Regions from separate parts of the Homo sapiens genome. Here region 2 is reported to be linked to region 1. The links are microRNA targets in miRTarBase. Many come from high-throughput screens and were not tested one by one. Region 1 holds a microRNA gene; the other region holds the end of a gene's coding sequence.
Evidence for each region. The annotated mature microRNA hsa-miR-3908 reads GAGCAAUGUAGGUAGACUGUUU and lies in region 1 at 1,677-1,698, shown strand. An mRNA with a match to its seed (bases 2 to 7 or 8) in the 3' UTR can be bound and repressed. Matches are read on the target gene's strand: a 7mer-m8 pairs with bases 2 to 8, a 7mer-A1 pairs with bases 2 to 7 and ends in A, and an 8mer does both.

Region 2: the mRNA of RBM7 is a reported target of hsa-miR-3908. Seed matches in the 3' UTR shown: 7mer-m8 at 1,479-1,485.

Annotation. Positions count from the first base shown.
Region 1 is chr12:123,534,737-123,539,811 of GRCh38, forward strand. It overlaps MIR3908 (microRNA 3908), which reads left to right and starts at 1,673; the gene lies at 1,673-1,798.
Region 2 is chr11:114,406,809-114,411,879 of GRCh38, forward strand. It overlaps RBM7 (RNA binding motif protein 7), which reads left to right. Exons shown (of 5, transcript NM_001286045.2): 5 at 637-3,799. The coding sequence ends at 999. Among named protein-coding and RNA genes, the nearest start is that of RBM7, 8.7 kb to the left of the region's middle.

The sequences.
Region 1 (5,075 bases):
CGTGTGGTTGCAGGTAGGTTTCCACCGTCAGATCTTGGCTCCTTGAGGGAAGAAATCTTAATGCCCTTGTAGCCATAAAGCGCACCCCAACGTGGCACGTATTGATTAAAAATCTAAAAGTTGGCCGGGCGCGGTGGCTCACGCCTGTAATCCCAGCACTTTGGGAGACTGAGGTGGACGAGGTCAGGAGTTCAAGACCAGCCTAGCCAAGGTGGTGAAACCCCGTCTCTACTAAAAATACAAAAATTAGCCGGGCATGGTGGCGCATGCCTGTAATCCCAGCTACTCAGGAGGCTGAGGCAGAGAGTTGCTTAAACCCGGGAGGCGGAGGTTGCAGCAAGCCGAAATCGCGCCACTGCACTGCAGGCTGGGTGACAGAGCAAGACTCCATCTCAAAATAATAATATAATACAATAAATAAATAAATAAATAGTAAAAAAAAAAAAATTAAGGCCAGGCGGGGTGGCTCACGCCTGTAATCCCAGCACTTTGGGAGGCCGAGGTGGGAAAATTTCTAGAGCTCAGGAGTTCGAGACCAGCCTGGCCAACATGGTGAAACCACGCCTCTACTAAAAATACAAAAATTAGCCAGACATGGTGGCATGTGCCTGTAATCCCAGCTACTCAAGAGGCTGAGGCGCGAGAATCATTTGAGCCTGGGAGGCAGAGGTTGCAGTGAGCCAAGATCGTGCCACTGCACTCCAGCTTGGGCAACAAGAGCGAAACTCCGTCTCAAAAAAAAAAAAGAAAAAAAAAAAAGTAAAATAAAAAAATTAGCCAGACGTGGTGGTGAGAGCCTGTAGTCCCAGGTATTTGGGAGGCTGAGGTGGGAAGATCCCTTGAGCCTGGGAGGCAGAGGTTGCAGTGAGTTGAGATCACACCACTATGCTCCAAACTGGGCGACAGAGCGAAACTCTGTCTCAGAAAAATAAAAAATAAAAATAAATACTCCTGGCCACAGTGGCTCATGCTTGTAATCCTAGCACTTTGGGAGGCCAGGGCTGGAGGATCACTTGAGCCCAAGATTTCGAGACCAGCCTGGGCAGCATGGCAAAACCCCGTCTCTATTTAAAAAAAAGTCTGGTTGCAGTGACTTATGCCTGTAATCCCAGCACTTTGGGAGGCCAAGGGGGGCAGATCAGTTGAGGTCAGGAGTTCAAGATCAGCCTGGCCAACATGGTGAAACCTCATCTCTACTAAAAATACAAAAAAAAAAAAAAATTAGCCAGGCGTGGTGGCAGGCGCCTGTAATCCCAGCTACTCAGGAGGCTGAGGCAGGAGGATCACTTGAACCCGGGAGGCAGAGGTTGCAGTGAGCTGAGATCGAGATCGTGCCACTGCACTCCAGCCTGGGTGACAAAGCGAGACTCTGTCTCAAAATAAATAAATAAATAAATTAATTAATTAATTAAATAAAAATTACCCGACTCTGGTGGCAAGTGCCTGTAGTCCCAGCTACTCGGGAGACTGAGGTGGAAGGATGACTTGAGTCCCAGGGAGCAGAGGTTGCAGTGAGCTGTGATTACACCACTGCACTCCAACCTGGGTGACATAGGGAGACCCTGTCTCAAAAACAACAAAAAAACTCATACGTTATCTAGCACGGTGGCGTGAGCCTGTAGTTCCAGCTACTCCAGTGGGAGGATCCCTTGAGTTCAAGAGTTCTAGTCTAGCCTGAGCAATGTAGGTAGACTGTTTCTAAAAAAATAAAAAGTTAAAAAAATTTATGTTAACGTGTAATGTGTTTACTAATTTTTTTTTTTTTTTTTGGAGACAGAGTCTCCCTCTGTCGCCAGGCTAGAGTGCAGTGGCTCGATCTCAGCTCGCTGCAGCTTCGACCTCCCAGGTTCAAGCAATTTCCCTGCCTCAGCCCCCAAGTAGCTAGGATTACAGGCGCATGCCACCATGCCTGGCCGATTTTTTTGTATTTTTAGTAGAGAGGGGGTTTCACCATGTTAGCCAGACTGATCTCGAACTCCTGACCTCAGGCAATCTGCCTGCCTCAGCCTCCCAAAGTGCTGGGATTACAGGCATAAGCCATCCTCCCGGACTATTTTTTAATTAATATTTTTTAAAGCATCAGTTTAAATTTCTTTTCTTTTCTTTTCTTTTTCTTCTTCTTCCCTTCCCTCCCCTCCCCTCCCCTTTCTTTCTTCCTTTCCTTTCCTTTCCTTTCTCTTTCTTTCTTTCTTTCTTTCTTTCTTTCTTTCTTTCTTTCCTTTCTCTCTCTTTCTCTCTCCCTCCCTCCCTCCCTCCCTCCCTCCCTCCCTCCCTCTCTCTCTCTTTCTTTCTTTCTTTCTTTTCAGGGTCTAGTTCTGTTGCCCAAGGTAGTGCAGTGGTGCGATCGTAGCTCACTGCAGCCTCAAACTCCTGGGCTCAAGCGGTCCTCCCACTTCAGCCTCCTGAGTTAGCTGGGATTATAAATTTCTATTTACAGTAGATATGAGCAGATATAACTCACCTAACAAAAGCTCTTTCAAGGCTAGACACAGTGGCTTACGCCTGTAATCCTAGCACTTTGGGAGGCTGAGGTGGGCGGATCACCTCAGATCGGGAGTTTGAGACCAGCCTGCCCAACATGGTGAAATCCTGTCTCTACTAAAAATATAAAAATTAGCCGGTGTGTGGCCCGTGCCTGTAATACGAGCTACTAGGGAGGCTGAGGCACGAGAATTCCTTGAACTCAGGAGACGGAGGTTGCAGTGAGCCAAGGTCATGCCTCTTCACTCCAGCCTGGGCAACAGAGTGAGACTCTGTCTCAAAAAAACAAACAAAAAAAAACAAAAACAAACAAACAAACAAAAACTCTTTAAATATTGTTTTAGTGTAAAGGGGCTCTGAGGCCAAAAAGTTTCAGAACTTCTGCCTTATAACATCCTAAGAGGTAAATTTTATTATCTTATTTTACAAATGAGGAAACTGAGGCACAGAGAGGTTAAAAGGCTCACCCAAAGCCAGGCAGCTGGTGAAGGTAAATTCAGGGTCAGACCTGCGCAGTCTGGCCTCGAGTCTGTGCCATAACCTTCTCATCCTTGTTCCTTACACGTGCTAAGCACTCTAAACCTTCTGGATCCTTCCAACAACCCAAATGAAGCTGACATATTATTGCTGTCCCCTTTCTTTTCTTTTTTCTTTTATTGAGACGGATTCTCGCTCTGTCACCCAGGCTGGAGTGCGGTGGCAAAATCTCAGCTCACTTCAATCTCTGCCTCCCAGGTTCAAGCAATTCTCCTGCCTCAGCCTCCTTAGTAGCTGGGACTACAGGCACCTGACACCATGCCCAGCTAATTTTTGTATTTTTAGTAGATACAAAGGTTCACCATGTTGGCCAGGCTGGTCTCGAACTCCTGACCTCAGGTGATCCACCCACGTTGGCCTCCCAAAGTGCTGGGATTACAGTGTGAGCCACTGTGCCTGGCCAGTGCTGTCCCCTTTTTCTTCTTCTTCTTTTTTTTTTTTTTTTTTTTTTGAGATTGAGTCTAGCTGTGTTGTCAGGCTGGAGTGCAGTGGCGTGATCTCGGCTCACTGCAGCCTCTGCCTCCAGGGTTCAAGCGATTCTCCTGCCTCAGCCTCCCAAGTAGCTGGGACTACAGGCATGTGCCACTACACTTGGCTAATTTTTGTATTTTTAGTAGAGATGGGGTTTCATCATGTTGGCCAGGATGGTCTCGATCTCTTGACCTCGTGATCTGCCCCCCTCGGCCTCCCAAAGTGCTGGGATTACAGGTGTGAGCCACGCCTGGCCTTGCTGTCCACTTTCTAAGTTAAAGACAGGGAGGCAGGGAAAGGTGTGCTGATTTCCTGTAGCTACTATAACGAATTGCCACAAACTTGGTGACTTGAAACAAAACTAGCTGGGCATAGTGGCTCACGCCTGTAATCCCAACACTTTCGGAGGTGGAAGAGGGAGGATCACTTGAGCCCAGGAGTTGGAGACCAGCCTGGGCAGTGTAGTGAGACTCGATCTCTATAAAAAAAGTTTTTAGGTCAGGTGTGGTGGCTCAGTCCTATAATCCCAGCACTTTGGGAGGCCAAGGCAGGTGGATTGCTTGAGCTCAGGAGTTGGACACCAGCCTGGGCAACATGGAGAAACCCCATCTCTACAAAAAATACAAAAATTTAGCTGGGCATGGTGGCATGTGCCTGTAGCCCCAGTTACTTAGGGGGCTGAGACAGGAGGATTGCTTGAACCTGGGAGGTCAAAGCTGCAGTGAGCCACAATCCTGCCACTGCACTCAAGCCTGGGGGACAAAGTGAGACCCTGTCTCAAAAAAAAAAAACAAACAAAAAAACACATTGTTTTAAATTAGCCAGGTGTGCTGGTGTTCACCTGTAGTCCTAGCTACTTGGGAGGCTGAGGTGGGAGGACTGCTTGAGCCTGGGAGGTCGAGGCTGCAGTGAGCCATGATCGCACCACTGCCCTGCAGCCTGGGCAACAGAGTGAGATGCTGTACCAAACAACAACAACAACAACAAAAACCCAAAACAAAAAACAAAAACCCAGAAACGTATTCTCTCACAGTTCTGGAGTCCAGAAGTCCTAAATCAAAGCATTAGAACTACCACGTTCCCTCCGAAGGCGCCAGGGGAGGACCCTTCCTTGCCTCTTCCAGCTTCTCGTGCCTCTAGGTGTTTCCTGGCTTGCAGCCGCATCACTCAATTCTCTGCCTGTTTGCTTTCTTTTTGTTTTTGAGACAGGGTCTCCCTCTGTCGCCCAGGCTAGAGTGCAGTGGTGCCGTCTCAGCTCATTGCAGCTTCGAACTCCTAGGTTCAAGCGACCCCCTTGCCTCAATCTCCCAAGTAACTGGGACTACACGCACATGCCACCACACCCAGCTAATTTTTGTGTTTTTGTAGAGATGGGTTCTTGCCATGTTGCCCAGACTTCTCCTGCCTGTTTTCACATTTCCTTTGCTCTGTGTGTCTTCTCCTCTGTGTCTCATATAAGGACACGTGTCATTGGATTTAGGTTCCACACAGATAATCCAAGATGATCCCCTCATCTGGAGATCCTTAATTTAATCACATCTACAAAGACACTTTTTTTTTTTTTCAAATTAAGTCTCGCTTTTTTT
Region 2 (5,071 bases), not on the chromosome of region 1:
ATCACGAGGTCAGGAGTTCGAGACCAGCCTGGCCAAGATGGTGAAACCCCGTCTCTACTAAAAATACAAAAATTAGCCGGGCGTGGTGGCACAGGCCTGTAGTCCCAGCTACTTGGGAGGCTGAGGCAGGAGAATCGCTTGAACCCGGGAGGTGGAGCTTGCAGTGAGCCGAGATCTGTAACCTGTCTCAAAGAATTACTTGGTATTCTATGAACCTGTTCTGTGTTTCCCTGTTATTTTTGTTTGTGCAATTTCCTTTTCTTGGCATATCTCTCCCTTAAAATATGAAAATATTCCATCCATTGTTTTAATACCCAGATCATATGCCACCTTCATGAAACCTTTCCTAATGATACTGATCTCCTGATTCTTTGTTTTTTACACAGTGATTTTGCATTATAGTCATTTTGTGTGACTTATTCTGAGTTGCATTCTTGAGGACAAAGAGTAGTATTTATGTATATATATGTATCTTGTAGGTATACATTGGAATGATTGAAGCTATTGTACTGCTTTAGTTGTGGATCCATCTAGGCAAGAGTGACTTTATTTTCTTTCATTTTCTGTTAACTGACCAAATACATATTAGCTTTGATATCTAGAAGTATTAACATTTCCACTTTTCCTATTCCTCAGATGAACAGTGCTTTGAGACAAATGTCATATGGTGGAAAATTTGGTTCTTCACCTCTGGATCAATCAGGATTTTCACCATCAGTTCAATCACACAGTCATAGTTTCAATCAGTCTTCAAGCTCCCAGTGGCGCCAAGGTACACCATCATCACAGCGTAAAGTCAGAATGAATTCTTATCCCTACCTAGCAGATAGACATTATAGCCGGGAACAGCGTTACACTGATCATGGGTCTGACCATCATTACAGAGGAAAGAGAGATGATTTCTTCTATGAAGACAGGAATCATGATGACTGGAGCCATGACTATGATAACAGAAGAGACAGTAGTAGAGATGGAAAATGGCGCTCATCTCGACACTAACACATGTTAAAAGGACATTGTTTTTATAGGGTCATTTTAGGCCCTTTGACTAAGTTGATATGGAAATATTTTGTTGAAAAACTGTACAGAGCAGCTTTACAAGTTGTCACATTTCTTTATAAATTTTTTTAAAGCTACAGTTTAATACAAAATGAATTGCGGTTTTATTACATTAATAACCTTTCACCTCAGGGTTTTATGAAGAGGAAAGGGTTTTATGCAAAAGAAAGTGCTACAATTCCTAATCATTTTAGACACTTTAGGAGGGGGTGAAGTTGTATGATAAAGCAGATATTTTAATTATTTGTTATCTTTTTGTATTGCAAGAAATTTCTTGCTAGTGAATCAAGAAAACATCCAGGTTGACAGTCTAAAATGGCTACTGGTATTTTAGTTAATTCAAAAATGAAACTTTTCAGTGATTCACTTTACTAACATTCTATTTGAGAAGGCTTATTGGTAAAGTTTGGGGATAAAGGCATTGCTTAACTTCTTATATAATTTAGGTATAAATTCTGTGACATGCTCTTGAGCTTTACCCTAGTTGAACATACATGTGTAGATTTACACATACTGTTTCATTCTAAAATTTAGAAATTGTTCATTAAATCCCATTTGAGGTATAAGTCACTCAGGAAGTTAAAATATCTCTACACGTATATTTTTACATTAAAAATACAGTGTTAGCATAAATCCCCTTTTCAGGAAGAACAAAAATGTCAGTGCATAGTTAGATAAAATGGTAAAATGTTTTACTGAAAGCATACTTTTTTGGAAAATAGATTCATGAAGCCTTTAAGTGCTGCTTCTGTCAGTCAAACGTTAAAAACTTTAACATTTTCAAAGTGCCCAGACTGTGTACAAAGACACATGTAATGGAGATTGTACAGGTTGTTTTTTTGTTTGAACCTTTGAAAGAGTTTAATCTTAACGTTTTCTAATTTTAAAATTTTAAAATCTTGTTTAACAAAAGCTTGTATTAAGATACTGTTTTCATTTCATTACAGAATTGTTTATAAAAGTTCATTTGTTGAAAAATAAGGATCCTTTTTAATACCACAGCATTTGTACTGTTCCTTTTTAATATACTGAAAATATAAAAGGAAGGGTGTGTGTTATTTTTTTTTTTTTATGTCACTGACTTCAGAGACATTGTACACAAAGAATTAACATACTTTTATTCACTGATTGCCTGCTGTTTAGAATATCAGTTCTTTAATTTTGAGCATCCTGAAATACATCTTTTGTACATATAGAGCATGATGTTTCACAATCAGATTTTCAGTGACCCCTCGATTATAGCTTGGAGTACTTTAGTTACCCTCAGTGGTCTCTAGGAGTTAAAGTACACTTAGATTTCCTGTTTATAAATGAATTCAGTTTTTCTGTTTCTAAGTAAATGTAGCTATTCAACTACTCACTATAGAATTAAGATAAACAATTTGTTTGCTTAAGCATTTTCACAGAATTTGTTTCCAATGAGATTATTATTTTTGGGTATCTTATCCATATGAAAACTTAGTAGGTTTGTAGATGTTAACGAAGATTAATACTGCATGTTTGTTTTTGTTTTTTTTTTGAGACAGAGTCTTGCTACGACACCCAGGCTAGAGTGCAATGGCGGGATCTCAGGTCACTGCAACCTCCATATCCCGGGTTCAAGTGATTCTCCTGCCTTAGCCTCCCGAGTAGCTGGGATTACAGGCACCCACCACCACGCCTGGCTAGTTTTTGTATTTTTAGTAGAGATGGGGTTTCACCACATTGGCCAGGCTGGTCTCAAACTCCTGACCTCAAGTGATCCACCTACCTTGGCCTACCGAGGTGCTGGAATTACAGGTGTGAGCCACCGCGCCTGGCCTAATACTGCTTTATTACAACGTTATCTGTGGGTCGGATCCTTTTATATTGGTTAACAGATGACCCTGACTCAGAATAATCTTTTTCAATGGCTTTTTGAGGGAAGCTTGTGAAGTTCTGGTGAATCTTCTTTTTCACTTCACTTTCAGTGAGCTGAAAGTAACCAAACTAAATACATGTATTGTGTAAAGGGACAGGACAAGACAGCCTTAAAAAATTGAATATAGTTGGTGAGACAACTCAGAAGTACAGGTTTGAGCATCCCTTATTCAAAATGCTTGAGAAGTGTTTTGGGTTCTGGAATATTTGCATTAATGCTTGCCAGTTGAGCATCCCAGGTCCGGAAATCCACAGTGCTCCAATGAGCCTTTCCCCTGAGTGTCACATCTGTATTGGCACTCAAAAAGTTTCATATTTTGGAGCATTTCAGATTTCAGATTTGGGATGCTTCATCTATATTGACAGCTGCAAGAACAGAAAGGAAGAAGAGATTATTTTTGTGGGAGAACAGTTTCTCCCATAGTGTTTCCTGTGGAATGCTAGTGTCTCATAAAGTCTTCTAAAAAAAAGAAAAAAAAAATCAAATGTTTGGAAGCCATTTTGTGTTACTGTGTGACTTTCTTTTACTCAAAAACAGCACCATAAAATTTCTGACAAGTACTATAGGTAAAGAAATCCCTTTATACTTAACCTAGTATTTTCTACCTTTCCCCATCTAAAATAAAATTTTTATACCACTTTCTAATTATGTTGTGTGTGCCCACTTTCCCCATACCTACTGCTACCATCTTAGAGTAGGCAATTTTCTCAAGAGGATTATTCCAAGAACACCCTAATGTTTTCCTGCTTCCAGTCTTCTTTCCTCAAATTTATTCCACACTCTTAAGAATTGAAGATGTAAATCTGTCACTCGCCTGAATAAAGCTTCAGTGGCCTCTGACTTAAGTACAAAATTCTCAACTTAATATGACCCCTATTTGGCATGTGCTACTTCAGTCTCCTCTGATGACTTCCCCACTTTAGTTCTCATAGTAACTGCCCTTCACTGCTCAATCTATGCATTACTTCCTCTAGAAAGCCTTTCCAGAGCTCTGAAATCCAGATTCAGTGCCAAGTTATGTATTCCCCAAATATCTTTTTCTTTTATCATAGCCTTTAGACTGTATTATAATTTTCTTTTTACTTGTCTGTCTCTGTAGACAGCTCTATGAAGACAGACCTTATCTTATTCATCACTGCATTCCCAGGATCCAGTGCCTGGCATATATTTAACAGTGAAACTTTTTGATGAAAGGAAGAACGTCTGTTAATTGAATAAGGAAAAGGAGGATTCAACACATAAAACTTTGAATAGGCTCTCTAAACCTAAAACATTGCATCCTGAGAATTACATGTCACAGTACATGTATTCTAGAATTCTATTTGTTCATTTTGTCAAACTTCAAAAAGTTTTGGATCTGTATTCATGAATAATGTGTGACTTTGTTTTTATTTTATTTTAATTTATTTATGGCAGAGCCTCACTCTGTCACCCAGGCTGGAGTAGAGTGGCACAATCTCAGCTCACTGCTACCTCCGCCTCCTGGGTTCCAGTGATTCTCTCACCTCAGCCTCCCGAGTAGCTGGAATTACAGGCACCCACCACCACGCCTGGCTAATTTTTGTATTTGTAATAGAGACGGGTTTTCCCCATGTTGGCCATGCTGGTCTTGAACTCCCAACCTCAGGTGATCTGCCTGACTCGGCCTCCCAAAGTGCTGGGATTACAGGCATGAGTCACTGTACCAGCCTGATTTTGTTTTTTAATTGTATTATCTTAGTTTGGTTTAGGAGTATGGTTCTGCTAGCCTTATAAAATAAATTGGCAAGCTTATCATCTTCTATGCCCCCCCCCAAATTTGAATAATAAAGGAATTAGCCGTTTCTGCAAGATGTGTTGAACTCATTTATACAACTATCTGGGTTTGCTTTGGAAATAGCTCTTTGATTGCTTTATCAATTTCCTTTAGAGTTATCTTTTCAGGTTTGCTACTTTCTCAGGAAACAATTTGGATAATTTATACTTTTCAAGAAAATCAACCATTCCCTTTTTCTGAATATATTGCTATAGAGTTGTACATAGTATTTCTTATAATTTTTGTAAAACTCCTAATATTGTCAATAGTGCAGTTTTAGTTTCTGACGATATATTTTACCTTCCCTCTCATCCTCA